Linked DNA regions of Homo sapiens. The protein of the gene in region 1 interacts with the protein of each later gene in a pairwise test. Each region holds a gene or a part of one and is shown on either strand. Other genes may lie near its edges.

Region 1 (5,908 bases):
AAAAAGATAAAAACTGATTAAGCCTTCAGTAACAATATACTGACAGGTTCAAAGATGGAATATTATTCCATGGGTATAAACACTTACGCTCTTTGTTTTTCCAGAAACAGAAACTATACTTTTTAAGATATAAGTGAAGTAAGCGTATTCCCCTTATTTCTTTTCTCCAGCCTGTTCCCCAAAGGGCAGCTTTTATCTAAATGCAAATGCAGAATGAAGACACTCTTTAGGCTGGGTCTACCTTAAGGCCCAGAAGATGACCCCTGGAAAAGAGGAAAGCTTTATGTTTCCTATCAAGACCACTAAGAGATTCTGGCTAGAGGTTTCTGCACCAACGCACTTTCCAACTCTGGTTTTAGTAATCTTTGCCAAGATTATCTTGACACTGGGAAAAAAAATCAGGATGCAAGAGTCCTTAATTCAAAACAAAGATCAATCTGGATTGCACTTGAGAAAGATGTTTCTAGCAGAGAACTGCTACATAATAAATTAAATTGCATTTTCAGGCTACACAGTCTCTTTTTCAGAATTTAAGTCCATCCAAGAGTATCACATCTGGCCGGGCGCAGTGGCTGACGCCTGTAATCCCAGCACTTTGGGAGGCTGAAGTGGGCAGATCACCTGAGGTCTGGGGTTCAAGACCAGTCTGGCCAACAAGGTGAAACCCCCTCTACAAAAATACAAAAATTAGCCAGGCAAGATGGCGAGTGCCTGTAATCCCAGCTACTTGGGAGGCTAAGGCTGGAGAGTCGCTTGAACCTGGGAGGTGGAGGTGGCAGTTAGCCGAGATTTCGCCATTGCACTCCAGCCTGGGCAACAGAGTGAGACTCCATCTCAAAAACAGTATCACATCTGATGATTTGAACTTTTGAATATTGATTATTTAATAGTCTACATGCAGATCCACCACAATAATCCATATTGCCATTCTTGCTCTATGATCATCCTGAAACTTGCAACTTTTTAGCTCACTTTGATCTACTCACAGTGATGCAAATTACCATTTTAACTGCACCAACAAAGGCATTCTTTTAGTGAACCTACCATATTTAATAGCATTAATCAAGCATGTATACAGTAGGGAGATGCTGACAGTCTGAAAAGAGAAGAGGAGCTATTAACAGTGTCCTCATCCTCTCATACAAAATCCAATGATGCTACTCTAGTAATTGCTATCAATTATAGAGTACTTAATCATTTATTCTTTTTACCACCACTCTCCTTCCCCCATTTACAGAGAAGGAAACAGATTTCAAGTCAGCAATGCCCACAACATAGTAAGTGCCTAACCGCTTCTCACTACCCTGTCTACTTCCTCTTCAGAAGCCAGGCATCCTTTTTACTCTTTACATCCACTTACTTCTTCCTTCCTTCCACTTTTCTTTAGGTATCTCTGCCATTCTTCCCTTTTCTGATAAGAAATGGGCACATCTGAAAACTTAATAGGTCAACTCTGACAAAAGCTGGGCTCTGGAGACATATGCCGGGGGTTGAATCCTGGTTCACCTCTGCCACTCAGAACTTGTGCGACCTTGTGCGAGTCACTTAACTTCTCTGTGCCTCAGTTTCCCATAAAGTGGAGATAATAGTACCTACCTCATGAAGTTGTAGAGACTAGGGCTTGGAACATTATAAATGCCCAGAAAGTAACCTCTGGGTAAAGGGAATGGGAAATGTCAGTGACCTTTGCTGTTTACTTTACTTATATCTGTACTAAGTTTTTTACAACCATGTATTTATTCTGTATTAAAAAGCAACTAAACATAAAACCAACGAACCATTAAAATTTTAAAAAGGTCGACTGTCATCACCCACCAATGTAAACAGTATACTGCAATACAATTAAAATGTTCCCATTTAGCTTGGGAGAGTTTCTATAATTTTATCCAAAATAATCCAAAAACGTTATACAAAATACACCAATATGCCAAAAGTGAAGTGAAGAAGAATTAAGAGTTAGCCACACTGCCTCTCAGCTCACAGAGTGAAATCACCTCTTAAAGACATTTCTTTCAACTTGCAAAATTCCACTTGAACCACTGCAAGGCGTCATCAGAAAGTATCACAGGACTCAAATGCAGGTTAAAAAATGTTTTTGCTGGCTGGGCGTGGTGGCTCATGCCTGTAATCCCAACACTCCTGGGAGGTCAAGGCGGGCGGATCATCTAAGGTCAGGAGTTCAAGACAGCCTGGCCAACACAGTGAAACCCCATCTCTACTAAAAATACAAAAATAAGCCAGGCATGGTGGCGTGTGCCTGTAATCCCAGCAACTTGGGAGGCTGAGGCAGGAGAATTGCTTGAACCTGGGAGGCAGAAGTTGCAGTGAGCTGAGAATGTGCCACTGCACCCCAGCCTCGGTGAAAAAGGAGACTCCATCTCAAAAAGAAAAAGAAAAAAAAAGTCACCGCTAGACTAAGCTTCATGATGACAGGATCATGTATATTCTGGTTACCACTATATCACTGTGTAAGAGCCTACATAACTGCGGAATGAGGAAAAAAACGGTCACAGGTTTGTCAGCAATATTGTACAGAGGTTTGTGTCACAATTGTGGGGGACTAAGATGAAAACCTGGACATAAAAGGGACCAACTTTCTGATCACAGAGTATTTTTTAAGAAAGCACAGTGTGTGGATATATTATAAATCACTTTACAATCCTTCGTGTTGAACATTTGTGCTCAATTTTCCCTACTATAAATAATGCCATATCTTTACTTAAAATGTCTTCTGTATTTAGGACTGTGTTTTCAGAATCCATTGCTAAGTGAAAGAATACAAACATCTGAGTGTGTTATTAGTTAAGAGTTCTTTATTTAAAATGTCAACTTCTCTTTTAAATGAGTAGTTCATTTTAACTGCCACAAAATTATTTTCTGATTTATTTGACTGTTACTTTTTGTAACCTCTCGATTACGGAAATTCTGGCTATTTGCATTTATCTTGTTCTTGAGGATATCTTCTATTTTTTTTACCCTAAGTGAGGAAAAAATAAATACCCCAGCAGAAACACTAACGAAGGACAGACAAGCTCTAAAAGACACAAATAGCCAACACTAAAAAAAACTGTTCAAGGCCAGGTGCAGTGGCTAGTGCCTACAATCCCAGTATTTTGGGAGGCAGAAGTGGGAGGACCACCTGAGCCCAGGAGTCCAAGAGTCACCTGGGCAACATAGGGAGACCCTGTCTCTACAAAAAATAAATAATTATCTGGGCATGGTGGTGCATGCCTGTGGTCCGAGCTACTTGAGAGGCTGATGCAGGAGGATCACTTGAGCCCAGGAGGTCCAGGTTGCAGTGAGCCATTATCATGCCACTATGCTCCAGCTTGGGCCACAGAGACCCAGTTAAAAAAAAAAAAAGTTTGGCTGGGCACGGTGGCTCACGTCTATAATCCCAACCACTTTGGGAGGCTGAGGCGGGCAGATCACCTGAGGTCAGGAGTTTGAGACCAGCCTGGCCAACCTGGCGAAACCCCATCTCTACTAAAAATACAAAAAAATGTGCCGGGCATGGTGGTGTGCACCTGTAGTCCCAGCTACTCGGGAGGATGAGGCAGGAGAATGCTTGAACCCGCGAGGCGGAGGGTTGCAGTGAGCCAAGATTGCGCCACCGCACTCCAGCCTGGGCACCAGAGCAAGATTATGTCTCAAAAAAAAAAAAAAAAAAAAAAAGGTTCAACTGTAAGCAGTAAAAGTGCATATTAAAAATGAGGTATCATTCTACTCTTGTTGGAGGAGGGACAGCTCCTTCAAGAGAGATGGCTAGGATGGACACAGATGTAGGTGAGTTTGTTAAGTGAGAATGAGAAGTTCAGGAAATGAATACCTGAGACCTTTAATTGCCTCTACCAGTAAGAGGCAATAAGATATACTGGGATAAATAGGGCAGAGAGTTGTTGGGCTAGGCAGAAAAGGCAAGTCCCTTGACTTTTCCAGAAAGGCTGAGAATGTAAAGAAACATGCCACCCCAAGAACAGAACGCCAGAAGCATACTGAGAAGATGAGTCACTGGGGAATAAGCACAGAGGAGAATGGGAATTACTGCATAAAGCAGAGACCACTGGAGGGCCCCACTTAGGGCTGTACCCAAGGATAGCAGGTCTAAATGTTCCATCAGCCAACTTCAAGGTTGTTGAAAGTTCTTAACAGGACCTTGATGAAAGGTATTCTGAGCTCGGATATTGTTTCAATGGCAGAAAAGTGGCATTTGAGGTGCAGAAAAAGTGTATTTACATGTGCAACACACATACACAGGTGCACTCACACTCAGTGATAACTGAGTAGTTAGAATTTAGGGCTTATATACCTAACTTAGAAGAGGAAAGGACAGCAGGAGAAAAACCTTTTGGGAAGAACAGATTTCTTTAGGGAACACAAATGGTATTTTCAGAACAAATGAGAGATCAAGTTTACAATGTCTGTCTACATAGGTATGAGTGGTCTTTCTTTTCTTAGGGCCAAAAGACTACCCCTCCAACCCCTACCAGAGGTTTACTCTTGGCCTCTCTCCTGGGAACAGACTCACTCCAAAGGGAGAATTTATGTCAGCCCTCGTTTGTGACATGTATTTGCTTTTAGCCAGATAAACTCCAAGTAGGCTTCTCTCTGCATCTGTTGAATCTCAAATCTCTTCAGTTTAAAACAATCTTTATATCAACTCTGGGGTTCTCAGTGGATCTCCACAGAGGTAACTAAGCCTCATCTCTTTTCATTCCTTCCTGGGTATAGAGATCTAGACTGCCTTGCAAAGGAGATAACAGCTTTGGAAGAGTGTAGTTGAGACAGTGAGTGGAGCTGGGGTCAAGATGATCCCACAGCTTCCCAATCTAGATTCAGAATAAACCAGAGGTCCTAATCAAAGGAGAAAAGGCCCTAGTTTCTTCTTATATCTCAAATCCTCCCAGAGCTGCTATCTAATGAAGAAAGTTAGGCAGGCACTTGTTCATTTGTGCTTAAATCTGAGGGATCTATTTGATCCAAGAGTTAACTGGCCTTCTGCTTGAAGATGGACAGTTTAACTTTTGGGGCCAAATTCACTCCTCTTCTTCCCTCATGCTCCAATTAAACTTGCCTTTTCTCAAACACAAATTTAAGGTAAACACTTAAAAATGAAAAATCCATACTACCTCCTACTTAACTCATATTTGTTTTCTACAGTTACCAGCAAACAGTAGTTTCCTACTACTTTTTCATTGAAAAATTTGAACTATATTGCAGCCAAATACCTTTTCAGATCTGACTGGAGGATATAACAATGATTTATAACACTACCTCTATGAAAAACAAAACACATTTTAAGTTCTAAATGGCAAAATGCCTATGAGGTCCTTCTTTAAGTTATGATGAGTCTAGGTCATGGGAATATCCCTGGGGATTGGAGCTGGGGGCCACAGGAGATGGAAACATTTTTTTTCCTTTCATTCTCTTCAATTTGCTCATTTGCCACTCCCCTAGCTATTATGAAAAAAGATCAACTTTACCTAACTGGTGGGGCGATGCTCTCCAATTATACCAGCTGTCTCTGCCATAAAAGGAGGAAAGGGTATGGAGGAATTAAAGATCTTTCTGAGTTGTCAATTCTTTTAATTAGAACAATACTGGTTATTATGGTAAGTGAAATAATCCCAAAATATAGAAAGTAATTCCTGCCATCCTTGCAATTTCCATTCTTCTGAGTTAACCAGTATTCAAATCTTCTACCCATTATTTTAAAATAATGTTTCTAAATTAATAGAACTTTTTATTATTTTATTTTTATTTTTGAGATGGAGTCTCGCTCTTTTGCCTATGCTGGAGTGAAGTGGTGTTATCTTGGCTCACTGCAAACTCTGTCCCCGGGGTTCAAGCAATTCTCCTGCCTCAGCCTCCAGAATAACTGGGATGACAGGTGCCTGCCACCACACCT
Region 2 (4,224 bases), on another chromosome or scaffold:
GGTGGAAGAAGGGGGAGCAGGCATGTCATATAGTGAGAGAGGGAGTGAGAGGGAGGGAGCAAGAGTGAAGGGGGAGGTCCCAGACTCTTTTTAAATAACCTGAAATCCTGTGAACAGAGTGAAAACTAACTTATTACCATGAAGAGCACACCAAGCCATTCATGAGGGGTATACCTTCATGACCCAAACGCTTTCCACCAGGTCCTACCTTCAACACTGGGGATCACATTTCAACATGAGATTTGGAGAGGACAAACATCCAAATCATATCACATATATAAATATGTAAAACTATTTTAAATGTTTTTAAAGTATCGAATAGAAATAAATCTCACAAAATATGCTTAAGAACTTTAAGCAAAAACCATAAAATACTATTGTGATAAGTTAAAGAAGACCTAAATAAATGGAGAGATCTGTCATGCTCATGGATTGGAAGATTCAATACTGTAATGATATGAATAGTTCCCAAATTGTTCTATAGATTCAAAACATTGCCAGTTAAAATCTCAGTGGACTTTGTTTTTTTGAAACTGACAAGCTGATTCTGCCATTTATAATAATATTCAAAGGGGCAAGAATAACCAAGACACATTTGAAGAAGAACAAGGAGGAAGAAGAACGTATTTGAAGAAGAATAAGGAACTCTATTAAGTGTATATCTCCTATATATTGAGATACACATTTGAAATACATCTATCACCTAGATATTGAGATATATTATACATTTAATATAGTGTGTTGCTGGTATAGGGATAGACAAATGAACATTGGATCAGAATAGCACTGAAACAAGATCTACCCCTATATGGGCATGTCCCTATTAACAAAAAAATATTGTTGATTATTTCCTCAAGATGATCTGTAAAAAACAAGTTAATTGAACATCCATATGGGAAAAAAGTGAATCCTTCTGCTACCTCAAATATCAACCCCAGGTAGATTATAGATCTAAAAGTGAAAGGCAAAGCAATAAAGATTTTAGAAAATAACAAAGAGAATATCTTTATGAAAATACAGGAAATATTTTAAAAATAGGCTAGAAAACTCACTATTAAAATATATAAAATATAAGAACATCTGTTCATCAAAAGTACTATAGTTTGAATAGCAGTGTCTCCTCCAAAATTCATATTGAAACTTAATCCCCATTGTAACAGTACTAATCCTAAAACTAAGTATTAAGAGGTGTGACCTGTGGGAAGTGACTAAGTCATGAGGGGTCTTTCCTCAGGTATGGGATTAGCATCCTTATAAAAGGCCTTGAGATGGAATGTAGTGCCCCCTTGCCCTCTTGCGTTCTCCCATGTGAGGACACAGCAACAAGGCACCATCTTGGAAGGAGAGAGAAGCCCTCACCAGACAACAGTGCACATGCCTTGATCTTAGACTTCCCAGCCTCCAGAGCTATAATAAATACATTTCTGTTCTTTATAAATTACTTGGTCTCTGGTATTTTGTTACAGAAGCACTAATGGACTAAGACAAAAAGATTCCATTATGAAAGTGAAAAGGCAACCGCAGAGTGGCAGAAGCTTTTGGAGATGATGAATATGTTTACTTCCTGGATTGCGGTGATGATACCATGAGTGTATACATATGTGTGTATACATAATGTATACAAATTGTGTTCATTGATTATGTACAGTTTCTTTGTATACCAATTATACCTTAATAAAGCTAAGGAAAAAAAAAAGAAAATCCAGAATAAATATGCATGGTATGACCCATTTATTTAAAAAAAAAAAGAGGGAATGCGAAGCAGTGGTTTTGGTGCGAACACAAAAATTCTGGCTTCAACAGCATTTAAATTCCCAAACCAAGCATGTTTGTGTTTTAATTCTTTGTGGCCATAAATTGTACAGCTCAGGCCTTTATAGTCTCTCAGATTCTGTGAATGTGGGGAATTAGTTTTACTCATAAAAAGTTTTGTTCTTGGGGATAAATTTTTTAAAAAAATTTTTGTATAGTTAGCACACTGAGAAAATACAGACAAAGGCATACAGATGCAAGAAATGAGGTAGCTGAATAGACCAAAGAATGATATAGGGCCCAGAAGGTAGGCAAAGAGAAAGTTGTTGGGTTTATGGTTACAAGTAAACTAGCAGTTGTGGTGCAGATAGTTTTATTTCCCCCACATTAATCTGAACAGCCCATCCAGACTTAAACACTGCTTTTTGCATTTACTTCTAGGCAGGAAGACAGGGTTCTGATGGTGTGAGTCTCCTTCAACTCAGCAAACCACCTTGGTCTGCCTCGAGTTTCCAACACCCCTCCTGCCTGCTAGTGATAGGTGTGAGGCAGGTTGATGAACATGGAACTTTTTTCTTTTGGTCCCAAAGCATGCTACTCCTGGAGTTTCATTCAGTGAATGAGAACTATAGTTTGGTTCTGTGAGATCTCTATGAATCAAGGCGGCCACTGAAGCGGAGAAAAGAAATGCTTAAATGTTAAGAAAGTTTGAAGTGCAGAAAAAGGTGATTGTAAATCCATATGGTTAAGCTTAGCCCATTTCTTAAAAGGCTTGATTGCTCATTCCTCCATTCATTGATTTACTCACTCTTCCAATCCATGTTATTGAGTCTTGCTCTGTAATTCCGGATGGTTGTGCTTTTAAGTACTGCATAGTGGTTGTATGTCTGTGTTAGCATTGCTGAATGTATCAGGGAATTCATTTTTTTATCCCCATTCATTCGTTCCATTCATCTGTTTCTCTCTCTCTCTCTCTTTGTGTGTGTGTGTGTGTGTGTGTGTGTGTGTGTGTGTGTGTGTGTTATGCCTAGAAAACATTTCTCAAGAATTAGAATTACGATATGCTGTCAAACACAATGACTTATTTGAACCTCTTTTATTTGTAGGTTGAAGCACTGGACAATGCCACATACTTTGTGGATGGTGTGGGTCTTGGGGGTCATCATCAGCCTCTCCAAGGAAGAATCCTCCAATCAGGCTTCTCTGTCTTGTGACCGCAATGGTATCTGCAAGGGCAGCTCAGGATCTTTAAACTCCATTCCCTCAGGGCTCACAGAAGCTGTAAAAAGCCTTGACCTGTCCAACAACAGGATCACCTACATTAGCAACAGTGACCTACAGAGGTGTGTGAACCTCCAGGCTCTGGTGCTGACATCCAATGGAATTAACACAATAGAGGAAGATTCTTTTTCTTCCCTGGGCAGTCTTGAACATTTAGACTTATCCTATAATTACTTATCTAATTTATCGTCTTCCTGGTTCAAGCCCCTTTCTTCTTTAACATTCTTAAACTTACTGGGAAATCCTTACAAAACCCTAGGGGAAACATCTCTTTTTTCTCATCTCACAAAATTGCAAATCCTGAGAGTGGGAAATATGGACACCTTCACTAAGATTCAAAGAAAAGATTTTGCTGGACTTACCTTCCTTGAGGAACTTGAGATTGATGCTTCAGATCTACAGAGCTATGAGCCAAAAAGTTTGAAGTCAATTCAGAATGTAAGTCATCTGATCCTTCATATGAAGCAGCATATTTTACTGCTGGAGATTTTTGTAGATGTTACAAGTTCCGTGGAATGTTTGGAACTGCGAGATACTGATTTGGACACTTTCCATTTTTCAGAACTATCCACTGGTGAAACAAATTCATTGATTAAAAAGTTTACATTTAGAAATGTGAAAATCACCGATGAAAGTTTGTTTCAGGTTATGAAACTTTTGAATCAGATTTCTGGATTGTTAGAATTAGAGTTTGATGACTGTACCCTTAATGGAGTTGGTAATTTTAGAGCATCTGATAATGACAGAGTTATAGATCCAGGTAAAGTGGAAACGTTAACAATCCGGAGGCTGCATATTCCAAGGTTTTACTTATTTTATGATCTGAGCACTTTATATTCACTTACAGAAAGAGTTAAAAGAATCACAGTAGAAAACAGTAAAGTTTTTCTGGTTCCTTGTTTACTTTCACAACATTTAAAATCATTAGAATACTTGGATCTCAGTGAAAATTTGATGGTTGAAGAATACTTGAAAAATTCAGCCTGTGAGGATGCCTGGCCCTCTCTACAAACTTTAATTTTAAGGCAAAATCATTTGGCATCATTGGAAAAAACCGGAGAGACTTTGCTCACTCTGAAAAACTTGACTAACATTGATATCAGTAAGAATAGTTTTCATTCTATGCCTGAAACTTGTCAGTGGCCAGAAAAGATGAAATATTTGAACTTATCCAGCACACGAATACACAGT
Region 3 (4,984 bases), on another chromosome or scaffold:
TCCTTTCGACAAAACACTAGAACACAATTCAACCAAGTTTTTTTTTTTTTTTGAGACGGAGTCTTGCTCTGTCACCCAGGCTGGAGTGCAGTGGAGCCATCTTGGCTCACTGCAACCTCCGCCTCCCGGGTTCAAGCGATTCTCCCACCTCAGCCTCCTGATTAGCTGGGATTACAGGCACCTGCCACCATACCCAACTAATTTTCATATTTAGTAGAGATGGGGTTTCACCGTGTTGGTCAGGCTGGTCTCGAATTCCTGACCTCAAGTGATCCTCCCGCCTTGGCCCCGCAAAGTGCTGGGATTATAGGCGTGAGCCACCACACCTGGGCCAAGTTCCTTTATAACAAGGATCAGCTTTCCTCCAGCGCCCAATAACTCAATAACATGTCCCTCATTTTCCTCTGAGGCTTAACCAAAAGCACCTTTTTTTTTTTTTTTTTTTTTTGGTAGAGACAGAGGTCTTACTCTGTTGCTCAGGCTGGAGTTCAGTGGTATCATCCCCGTGCACTGTAAGCTCAAACTCCTGGGCTCAAGCGATCCTCTCACCTCAGTCTCCCAAGTAGCTGCGACTACAGGCATGTGCCACCACACCCAGCTAATGTTTTATTTTTTATTATTTATTTTTTGAATGTATTGAGACAGGGTCTTGCTCTCTCACCCAGGCTGGAGGGCAGTGGCGCAATCATAGCTCAAGTGATTCTCCTGCCTCAGCCTCCTGAGTAGCTGGGATTACAGGCATGTACCACCACACCCAGCTTATTTTGTATTTTTTGTAGAGACGGGGTCTCACTATGTTGCCCAGGCTGGTCTTGATCACCTGGCCTCAAGTGATGCTCCTGCCTTGGCCTCCCAAGGTGCTGGGATCACATGCGTGAATCACCACACCCAACCCAAAAGCACCTTTAACATTCATGTTTCTAGCAACGTTCTGTTCTTGATGATATTTGTATTCTCTAAGACCACAGAGGCTGTCTCTATTGCTCTCCCCTCCTCTCACCAGAATTACCTTTAACATCCATACTCCTACCAACAGTCTCTTAAAGGCAATCCAGACCTTTTCTAACATGTACCTCAAACTTCTATAGCCTTGATATGGTTTAAATGTCATCTCTAAAACTCATGTTGAAATTTGTCAATGTATTGGTATTGAGAGGAGGGCCTTTTTGAGGTAGTTACGTCATGAGGGCTCTGCCCTCATGAATGGATGAATGCCACTATTATGGGTGAGTTAGTTACCTTGAAGTTCAGCCCCCTTTTTTCCTGCGTCTCATATGCTTGCTTCCACCTTCCACCTTTCTGCCACGGGATGACCCTCACCAGATGCCGGCGCCATGCTTTTGGACTTCCCAGCCTCCAGAACCATGAGCCAAATGAATCTGTTGTCTTTATAAATTACCCAGTCTGTGGTATTCTGTTATGGCAGCAGCAAATGGACTAAGACAAGCCTCTACTGACTACCCAGTTCCAAAGCCATTTCCACATTTTTAGGTATTTGTTACCTAAGCACCACACTTCCTGGTGCCAAAACCTGTATCCATTTCCTGGAACTGCCATTTCAACTGGGTGGCTTAAACAACAGAAATGGATTCTCTCCCCATTCTGAAAGCCAGAAGTCTGAAATCAAAGTGTCAGCAGGGCGTTACTCACCCTGAAAGTTCTACAGGAGGGTCCTTCCTGACCTCCCCAGGTTCCAGTGGCCCCAGGCATACCTTGGCCTCTGGCTGTGTCACTCCTGTCTCTTCCTCCACTGTACCATGGCTGTCTTCCCTCTGTGTGTCTTTGTCACTTCTGTTCTTATAAGGACATCAGTCATGTTGCATTAAGGACCCAACCTACTCCAGTATGACCCCATCTGAACTGCAAAGGCCCTATTTGCAAACATCACATTCTGAAGTACCACAGATTAGAACTTCAGCATACCTTGAGGGGACAGAATTCAACCCATAATAGAAGCCATCCTGCTCCAGTCCTCCCAACCAACCCCCATCAAAATCGGGAGACAGGCTGCACCCCCTGCCACACTACCCCCTGCCACACTGCCTTTGCTCAGGTTGGCCTCATCCATGCAGCTAGACCCCCAGCCTGACTTACTTCACCCCTGCTTTGTTCCTGGCTGTGCAGTGGCCCAGGCCAGCCCTCAGCATCCTTTCTTTTCTCCCACCAGTAACAGAAAATCCTTCTGTCTTGGGTCCCTGTGGCCTCACCAGTAGGACACAGAGTATGGAAGTGTCCCCAGCCTCGGCCTGAGCCACATCCCCCTACTTGTGTCCTGCTCTGCGGTCACTTGTTCTACCATGTGTGCTGGTCCTGACCTCCCCTTCAGATCTCAGGTGACCTCAGGGCCAGGCCCATGGATAACACCTGCTATCCCTGCCCAGCGCCACGGGCCAGGAAGTACAAGTGTGGCCTGCCCCAGCCGTGTCCTGAGGAGCACCTGGCCTTCCGCGTGGTCAGCGGGGCCGCCAACGTCATTGGGCCCAAGATCTGCCTCGAGGACAAGATGTGAGCTCCCTGGGGTGACTGGGGATCAGGGAGGGAGTGGGGGATCCAGGGCCGGGTCTGCAAGGGAGAGTGGAGCAGACGTGCCCATGTGGGATCTCCCCGTCCCCCCCACCCCCCCCCAACTAGGCTGATGAGCAGCGTCAAGGACAACGTGGGCCGCGGGCTGAACATCGCCCTGGTGAACGGTGAGGCCCCTGGCTGAGCGTGGCCTGCCGCCCTCCTTCCCTGCTCCCTCCCCAGGAGGCCTCTGGGTGTTTGCCCTCCCTTCCCCTCCCATTCAAGATCTCCCAGGGAGGCCTGGGAAGGAGTCTGTGCAAGCGCAAGGCTCCACAGAGGAGTGACCCAATGAACAAAAAAGCATGATGGCAATAAAGAACTAGGGAAGGTTCTGGGAGGTTGAGGGTGCTTCATGGAGAGCCCCCGGAGGGCCTCAAATGCCAGACAGAGGCACCACGGCTTGGGGTGGGATGCAGCTGCCTGAACAAATGGATGAATATTGGGGGACTGTTTGAAAGCTTCCAGAAGGGCTGCCCCCCACCCCCGGTGCTACCCGCCTGCCGTGCCCTGAGGCTGGCCTGGCTTACCCAGCAGGGCCCCTCCCTCCTGACACAGGGGTCAGCGGCGAGCTCATCGAGGCCCGGGCCTTTGACATGTGGGCCGGAGGTGAGTTGCAGCGCAGCGTCTTGCATTTTGACTGCAGCAAAATGACCTGGGCAGCTTCCCCTGAGACACTGCTCTCTCTGTCTGTACTTGGAGCTTCTCAGTCACCTCCGTGGGTTCAGAAAGGACAGGGGCATCGCCAGCTTGGTCTGGAGGCTGTGGGAGGTCACGGGGATGCCTCAGCTTCCTACACCAGCCTGTCCCTTGGCGGGGCATGTCCCAGGCCCAATCCCTACTTCTGTTTCCTTGTTTGGAGAACGGGCTTGTGGGAGGGTGCTCAGTGGTGCCTGATGACCCCTGTTCCGTGGCACCTGCCCCCCCAGATGTCAACGACCTGTTGAAGTTTATTCGGCCACTGCACGAAGGCACCCTGGTGTTCGTGGCATCCTACGACGACCCAGCCACCAAGTAGGTGCTTGGGGAGGCCAGCCTCAGCCTTGCCCTTCTGCAGCAACAGCTGACACCCCTTCCTCCCATGCTGCAGGATGAATGAAGAGACCAGAAAGCTCTTCAGTGAGCTGGGCAGCAGGAACGCCAAGGAGCTGGCCTTCCGGGACAGCTGGGTGTTTGTCGGGGCCAAGGGTGTGCAGAACAAGAGCCCCTTTGAGCAGGTATGGGGGGTGCCTGGCATCACCCCCACCGGGGCAGCCTGTCGCCCCTTCTGCCTGCATGCGACGAGCCTCCCCAGCTGCTCACGCCCCAGCAGGGGACCGTCCCCAGTCCAGCTATGAGGGGTGGGCCAGTGCAGCTGATGCCATGTTTCCCTGGGATGGGTGGAGGGGCCAAGTGCCCTGAGAGTACACCGTTGGCCAACACAGCACAGTTGACTGACAGCCTGGGTCCTGGTCCACTCCTGTCCCCTGTCCCTGAGGGCCAAAGTCATGACTTTCTGCTCCCCTCCCCACAGCACGTGAAGAACAGTAAGCACAGCAACAAGTACGAAGGCTGGCCCGAGGCGCTGGAGATGGAAGGCTGTATCCCGCGGAGAAGCACGGCCAGCTAGCACGGCCAGTGCCAGGACCGGGCCGAGGGAGGCCAGACCAAGGGAGGCACGCGCGCTGCCGGGCGGACAGAGGCTGAGGCTCACACCCCACACCCGGGCAGGAGCGCTCCCTGGCCCCAACACATCGGGGCTCCGAGGCAGTGACCAGAACGTGGTCTCAAGGTGGTGGGGGCTATGGGGGCTGCAGGGGGTAGCCCTGCCGCACTTTGTCACGGGAGCCCAGGGTACCCGCCTCCTTTTCGTAACACTGTTCCCCCCGGTCAGCCCATCTAGCCCTGTCCTCCATTCCTCACGCCATCTCCATCCCCATCTTGAGTCCTGGAACGGCCCTGGGTGCCTGCCCCTCACTGTGCATCTCTGGGAGCAGCCCGGCAGGTTGGGGCGTCTTCCAGAACCTCTCCCTTCTGGAGCCACTCTGCACTGCGGGCTAAACATGTTTCCAGTGTGATTCCTTCCAGTGAGCCAAACCCGGTGGCTGCTTCATGAGCCTGACTGCCTCTCGCCTGCTCTCAGCAGGAAGGGACCCCTGGAGCAGGCTGGCCCGGGGTGGTGAAGTAGCTGGAGCCCGATCACAGTCCCGCGGTTTGTCAGGGGGCCCACCTTCTAGATGACCCCTTAATAAAGTGATGGCCCCACAGAAGAAATGCCTTCAGATGCTGTTGTCAGTGCGGAGTCAGAGGTGGCGGTGTCCTCTGGGGTGCGGGAGGACAGATTCCAGAGTCTTAACCAACCTGCTCCCACAGCCCGAGCAGACAGCCTTTTGTCTCCAGGGCTCCTGCCACCAACAGGCCCCGCTGCGACTGAGATGTGACTCAA
Region 4 (4,984 bases), on another chromosome or scaffold:
TATTTCCAGTCAGAGAAGGAAACCAGTGCCTGGCATTCTCACCATCTTTCTACCTACCATGATCAAGTGCTTGTCAGTTGAAGTACAAGCCAAATTGCGTTCTGGTTTGGCCATAAGCTCCTTGGGCCAATGTGTTGAGGAACTTGCCCTCAACAGTATTGATGCTGAAGCAAAATGTGTGGCTGTCAGGGTGAATATGGAAACCTTCCAAGTTCAAGTGATAGACAATGGATTTGGGATGGGGAGTGATGATGTAGAGAAAGTGGGAAATCGTTATTTCACCAGTAAATGCCACTCGGTACAGGACTTGGAGAATCCAAGGTTTTATGGTTTCCGAGGAGAGGCCTTGGCAAATATTGCTGACATGGCCAGTGCTGTGGAAATTTCGTCCAAGAAAAACAGGACAATGAAAACTTTTGTGAAACTGTTTCAGAGTGGAAAAGCCCTGAAAGCTTGTGAAGCTGATGTGACTAGAGCAAGCGCTGGGACTACTGTAACAGTGTATAACCTATTTTACCAGCTTCCTGTAAGGAGGAAATGCATGGACCCTAGACTGGAGTTTGAGAAGGTTAGGCAGAGAATAGAAGCTCTCTCACTCATGCACCCTTCCATTTCTTTCTCTTTGAGAAATGATGTTTCTGGTTCCATGGTTCTTCAGCTCCCTAAAACCAAAGACGTATGTTCCCGATTTTGTCAAATTTATGGATTGGGAAAGTCCCAAAAGCTAAGAGAAATAAGTTTTAAATATAAAGAGTTTGAGCTTAGTGGCTATATCAGCTCTGAAGCACATTACAACAAGAATATGCAGTTTTTGTTTGTGAACAAAAGACTAGTTTTAAGGACAAAGCTACATAAACTCATTGACTTTTTATTAAGGAAAGAAAGTATTATATGCAAGCCAAAGAATGGTCCCACCAGTAGGCAAATGAATTCAAGTCTTCGGCACCGGTCTACCCCAGAACTCTATGGCATATATGTAATTAATGTGCAGTGCCAATTCTGTGAGTATGATGTGTGCATGGAGCCAGCCAAAACTCTGATTGAATTTCAGAACTGGGACACTCTCTTGTTTTGCATTCAGGAAGGAGTGAAAATGTTTTTAAAGCAAGAAAAATTATTTGTGGAATTATCAGGTGAGGATATTAAGGAATTTAGTGAAGATAATGGTTTTAGTTTATTTGATGCTACTCTTCAGAAGCGTGTGACTTCCGATGAGAGGAGCAATTTCCAGGAAGCATGTAATAATATTTTAGATTCCTATGAGATGTTTAATTTGCAGTCAAAAGCTGTGAAAAGAAAAACTACTGCAGAAAACGTAAACACACAGAGTTCTAGGGATTCAGAAGCTACCAGAAAAAATACAAATGATGCATTTTTGTACATTTATGAATCAGGTGGTCCAGGCCATAGCAAAATGACAGAGCCATCTTTACAAAACAAAGACAGCTCTTGCTCAGAATCAAAGATGTTAGAACAAGAGACAATTGTAGCATCAGAAGCTGGAGAAAATGAGAAACATAAAAAATCTTTCCTGGAACATAGCTCTTTAGAAAATCCGTGTGGAACCAGTTTAGAAATGTTTTTAAGCCCTTTTCAGACACCATGTCACTTTGAGGAGAGTGGGCAGGATCTAGAAATATGGAAAGAAAGTACTACTGTTAATGGCATGGCTGCCAACATCTTGAAAAATAATAGAATTCAGAATCAACCAAAGAGATTTAAAGATGCTACTGAAGTGGGATGCCAGCCTCTGCCTTTTGCAACAACATTATGGGGAGTACATAGTGCTCAGACAGAGAAAGAGAAAAAAAAAGAATCTAGCAATTGTGGAAGAAGAAATGTTTTTAGTTATGGGCGAGTTAAATTATGTTCCACTGGCTTTATAACTCATGTAGTACAAAATGAAAAAACTAAATCAACTGAAACAGAACATTCATTTAAAAATTATGTTAGACCTGGTCCCACACGTGCCCAAGAAACATTTGGAAATAGAACACGTCATTCAGTTGAAACTCCAGACATCAAAGATTTAGCCAGCACTTTAAGTAAAGAATCTGGTCAATTGCCCAACAAAAAAAATTGCAGAACGAATATAAGTTATGGGCTAGAGAATGAACCTACAGCAACTTATACAATGTTTTCTGCTTTTCAGGAAGGTAGCAAAAAATCACAAACAGATTGCATATTATCTGATACATCCCCCTCTTTCCCCTGGTATAGACACGTTTCCAATGATAGTAGGAAAACAGATAAATTAATTGGTTTCTCCAAACCAATCGTCCGTAAGAAGCTAAGCTTGAGTTCACAGCTAGGATCTTTAGAGAAGTTTAAGAGGCAATATGGGAAGGTTGAAAATCCTCTGGATACAGAAGTAGAGGAAAGTAATGGAGTCACTACCAATCTCAGTCTTCAAGTTGAACCTGACATTCTGCTGAAGGACAAGAACCGCTTAGAGAACTCTGATGTTTGTAAAATCACTACTATGGAGCATAGTGATTCAGATAGTAGTTGTCAACCAGCAAGCCACATCCTTAACTCAGAGAAGTTTCCATTCTCCAAGGATGAAGATTGTTTAGAACAACAGATGCCTAGTTTGAGAGAAAGTCCTATGACCCTGAAGGAGTTATCTCTCTTTAATAGAAAACCTTTGGACCTTGAGAAGTCATCTGAATCACTAGCCTCTAAATTATCCAGACTGAAGGGTTCCGAAAGAGAAACTCAAACAATGGGGATGATGAGTCGTTTTAATGAACTTCCAAATTCAGATTCCAGTAGGAAAGACAGCAAGTTGTGCAGTGTGTTAACACAAGATTTTTGTATGTTATTTAACAACAAGCATGAAAAAACAGAGAATGGTGTCATCCCAACATCAGATTCTGCCACACAGGATAATTCCTTTAATAAAAATAGTAAAACACATTCTAACAGCAATACAACAGAGAACTGTGTGATATCAGAAACTCCTTTGGTATTGCCCTATAATAATTCTAAAGTTACCGGTAAAGATTCAGATGTTCTTATCAGAGCCTCAGAACAACAGATAGGAAGTCTTGACTCTCCCAGTGGAATGTTAATGAATCCGGTAGAAGATGCCACAGGTGACCAAAATGGAATTTGTTTTCAGAGTGAGGAATCTAAAGCAAGAGCTTGTTCTGAAACTGAAGAGTCAAACACGTGTTGTTCAGATTGGCAGCGGCATTTCGATGTAGCCCTGGGAAGAATGGTTTATGTCAACAAAATGACTGGACTCAGCACATTCATTGCCCCAACTGAGGACATTCAGGCTGCTTGTACTAAAGACCTGACAACTGTGGCTGTGGATGTTGTACTTGAGAATGGTAAGTACGTAGTATTCATGTGCATGAGATGCTTTTGAAGATGGGAATGCTGGACAAGGAGTAAGATCCTCATTATCCAAAGAGATTATCTCAACAGATAGAACATTTTGAAGACCACTTATAAAACATATGTTGTATTTTCATGCTATATGAAGATTTGCTACGTCCAACACTACTTTTTTTTTTTTTTTTTTTTGAGACGGAGTCTTGCTCTGTCACCCAGGCTGGAGTGCAGTGGTGCGATCTCAGCTCACTGCAACCTCTGCCCCCCTGGTTCAAGCGATTCTCCTGCCTCAGCCTCCAGTGTAGCTTGGATTACAAGAGCATGCCACCATGCCCAGCTAAATTTTTTTATTTTCAGTAGAGACAGGATTTCACTATGTTGGCCAGGCTGGTCTCAAACTCCTAGCCTCAAGTGATCCACCTGCCTCGGCCTCCCAGAGTGTTGGGATTATAGGTGTGAGCCCGCACGCAGCCTCTAGGTCCAACACTATTTAAATGGAGAAGTACAGTGAAAGGATGTCAGTGTGTGTATATGTGTCTATGGGTGTGTGTATGTGTAAGAAAGGGGGTGATGGGTATATACCTAGAGCAACAACAAAAGGGGTGAGACTGTCCAATTTTAATAAAAATGATACTATTAATAGTTGGGAAGATCCACAGTACTTTCCTACCTTGTTTTCCCTTCCTGTTAAATGCCCAGCTTTCCTAGAAATGTGTCTTTAAAGGCACCTGCAGTGTCAGCATGGTATTTTACTGGAAGTTTCTCTGCGTGGCTTCCAGGTTAAGGGCCAGAATGATTCTGTAATCATCCTAGGTTTCCCAGTAAACTCTATGGCTTAGTACAGTACTACATTTATGAGCTTTTTCTTTCTAGAAAGTAGGACTTGTCCATGAATTTTCAAAATATAGGTCAAGTATATACTTTCATGACTATACTTTTCAAATGTACTTTATTATAATGCATATGGTAAAATCTCCTTGATGTGTTTATGGTACAAGTAGCTGTTATTCAGGAAGACAATAATATGGCATTTATTTATTTGAGACAGAGTTTCACTCTTGTTGCCCAGGCTGGAGTGTAGTGGCGTGATCTCGGCTCACTATAACCTCCGCCTCCCAGGTTCAAGGGATCCTCCTGCCTCAGCCTCCCAAGTAGCTGGGATTACAGGCACCCGCTACCACACCCGGCTAATTTTTTGTGTTTTTGTAGAGACAGGGTTTTACCGTGTTGGCCAGGCTTGTCTCGATCTCCTGACCTCAGGTGATCCACCTGCCTCGGCCTCCCAAAGTGGTGGGATTATAGGCGTGAGCCACTGCACCCAACCAATATAGCTTTTAGATCGTACCACAGGGCTACATTAGAGCCTGCACTAGGACTCTGGGTTCTCGGTCCACATTTAAAGTGATATTGCTTTGGCAGTGTGTTGAGAGCCAGATGTTGGGAGGTGATAAAGCTGATTTCCATCTGGCTATAATCTTGGCTTTGCACTAGGAGGATAAACATTACATCTGTATCCGTATTTAAAATTTTGAATGCTGCAGAAGAATGGAACATGTATAAATGTAGTTATAAGTCAATTTCTAATTTCTCCTGACGATGAATATCTCTAGCAGAAAGCTGTGGTTTCTTTAAGGTTAAATGA

What was found. Proteins that work in one complex are often made in the same cells at the same time.
Region 2: the proteins of ANP32B (region 1) and TLR2 interact in a two-hybrid assay, tested with the Homo sapiens proteins (one large-scale study listed by BioGRID and IntAct).
Region 3: the proteins of ANP32B (region 1) and FAM3A interact in a two-hybrid assay, tested with the Homo sapiens proteins (one large-scale study listed by BioGRID).
Region 4: the proteins of ANP32B (region 1) and MLH3 interact in a two-hybrid assay, tested with the Homo sapiens proteins (one large-scale study listed by BioGRID and IntAct).

Annotation. Positions count from the first base shown.
Region 1 is NC_000009.12:97,988,582-97,994,489, reverse strand, and holds part of ANP32B (acidic leucine-rich nuclear phosphoprotein 32 family member B), read right to left. Parts: intron 5,525-5,908; exon of another isoform or gene 2,796-5,524; intron 1-2,795. UniProt on the Homo sapiens protein: Multifunctional protein that is involved in the regulation of many processes including cell proliferation, apoptosis, cell cycle progression or transcription.
Region 2 is NC_000004.12:153,700,034-153,704,257, forward strand, and holds part of TLR2 (toll-like receptor 2 precursor), read left to right. Parts: intron 1-2,193; exon of another isoform or gene 2,194-2,858; 5' UTR 2,859-2,874; coding exon 2,875-4,224. UniProt on the Homo sapiens protein: Cooperates with LY96 to mediate the innate immune response to bacterial lipoproteins and other microbial cell wall components. Cooperates with TLR1 or TLR6 to mediate the innate immune response to bacterial lipoproteins or lipopeptides.
Region 3 is NC_000023.11:154,505,995-154,510,978, reverse strand, and holds the end of FAM3A (protein FAM3A isoform 1 precursor), read left to right. Parts: intron 1-2,326; exon of another isoform or gene 2,327-2,353; coding exon of another isoform or gene 2,354-2,381; coding exon 2,382-2,505; intron 2,506-2,631; coding exon 2,632-2,690; intron 2,691-3,093; coding exon of another isoform or gene 3,094-3,117; coding exon 3,118-3,168; intron 3,169-3,488; coding exon 3,489-3,573; intron 3,574-3,649; coding exon 3,650-3,776; intron 3,777-4,072; coding exon 4,073-4,168; 3' UTR 4,169-4,808; downstream 4,809-4,984. UniProt on the Homo sapiens protein: May act as a defensin against invading fungal microorganisms.
Region 4 is NC_000014.9:75,044,730-75,049,713, reverse strand, and holds part of MLH3 (DNA mismatch repair protein Mlh3), read left to right. Parts: 5' UTR 1-58; coding exon 59-3,338; intron 3,339-4,984. UniProt on the Homo sapiens protein: Probably involved in the repair of mismatches in DNA.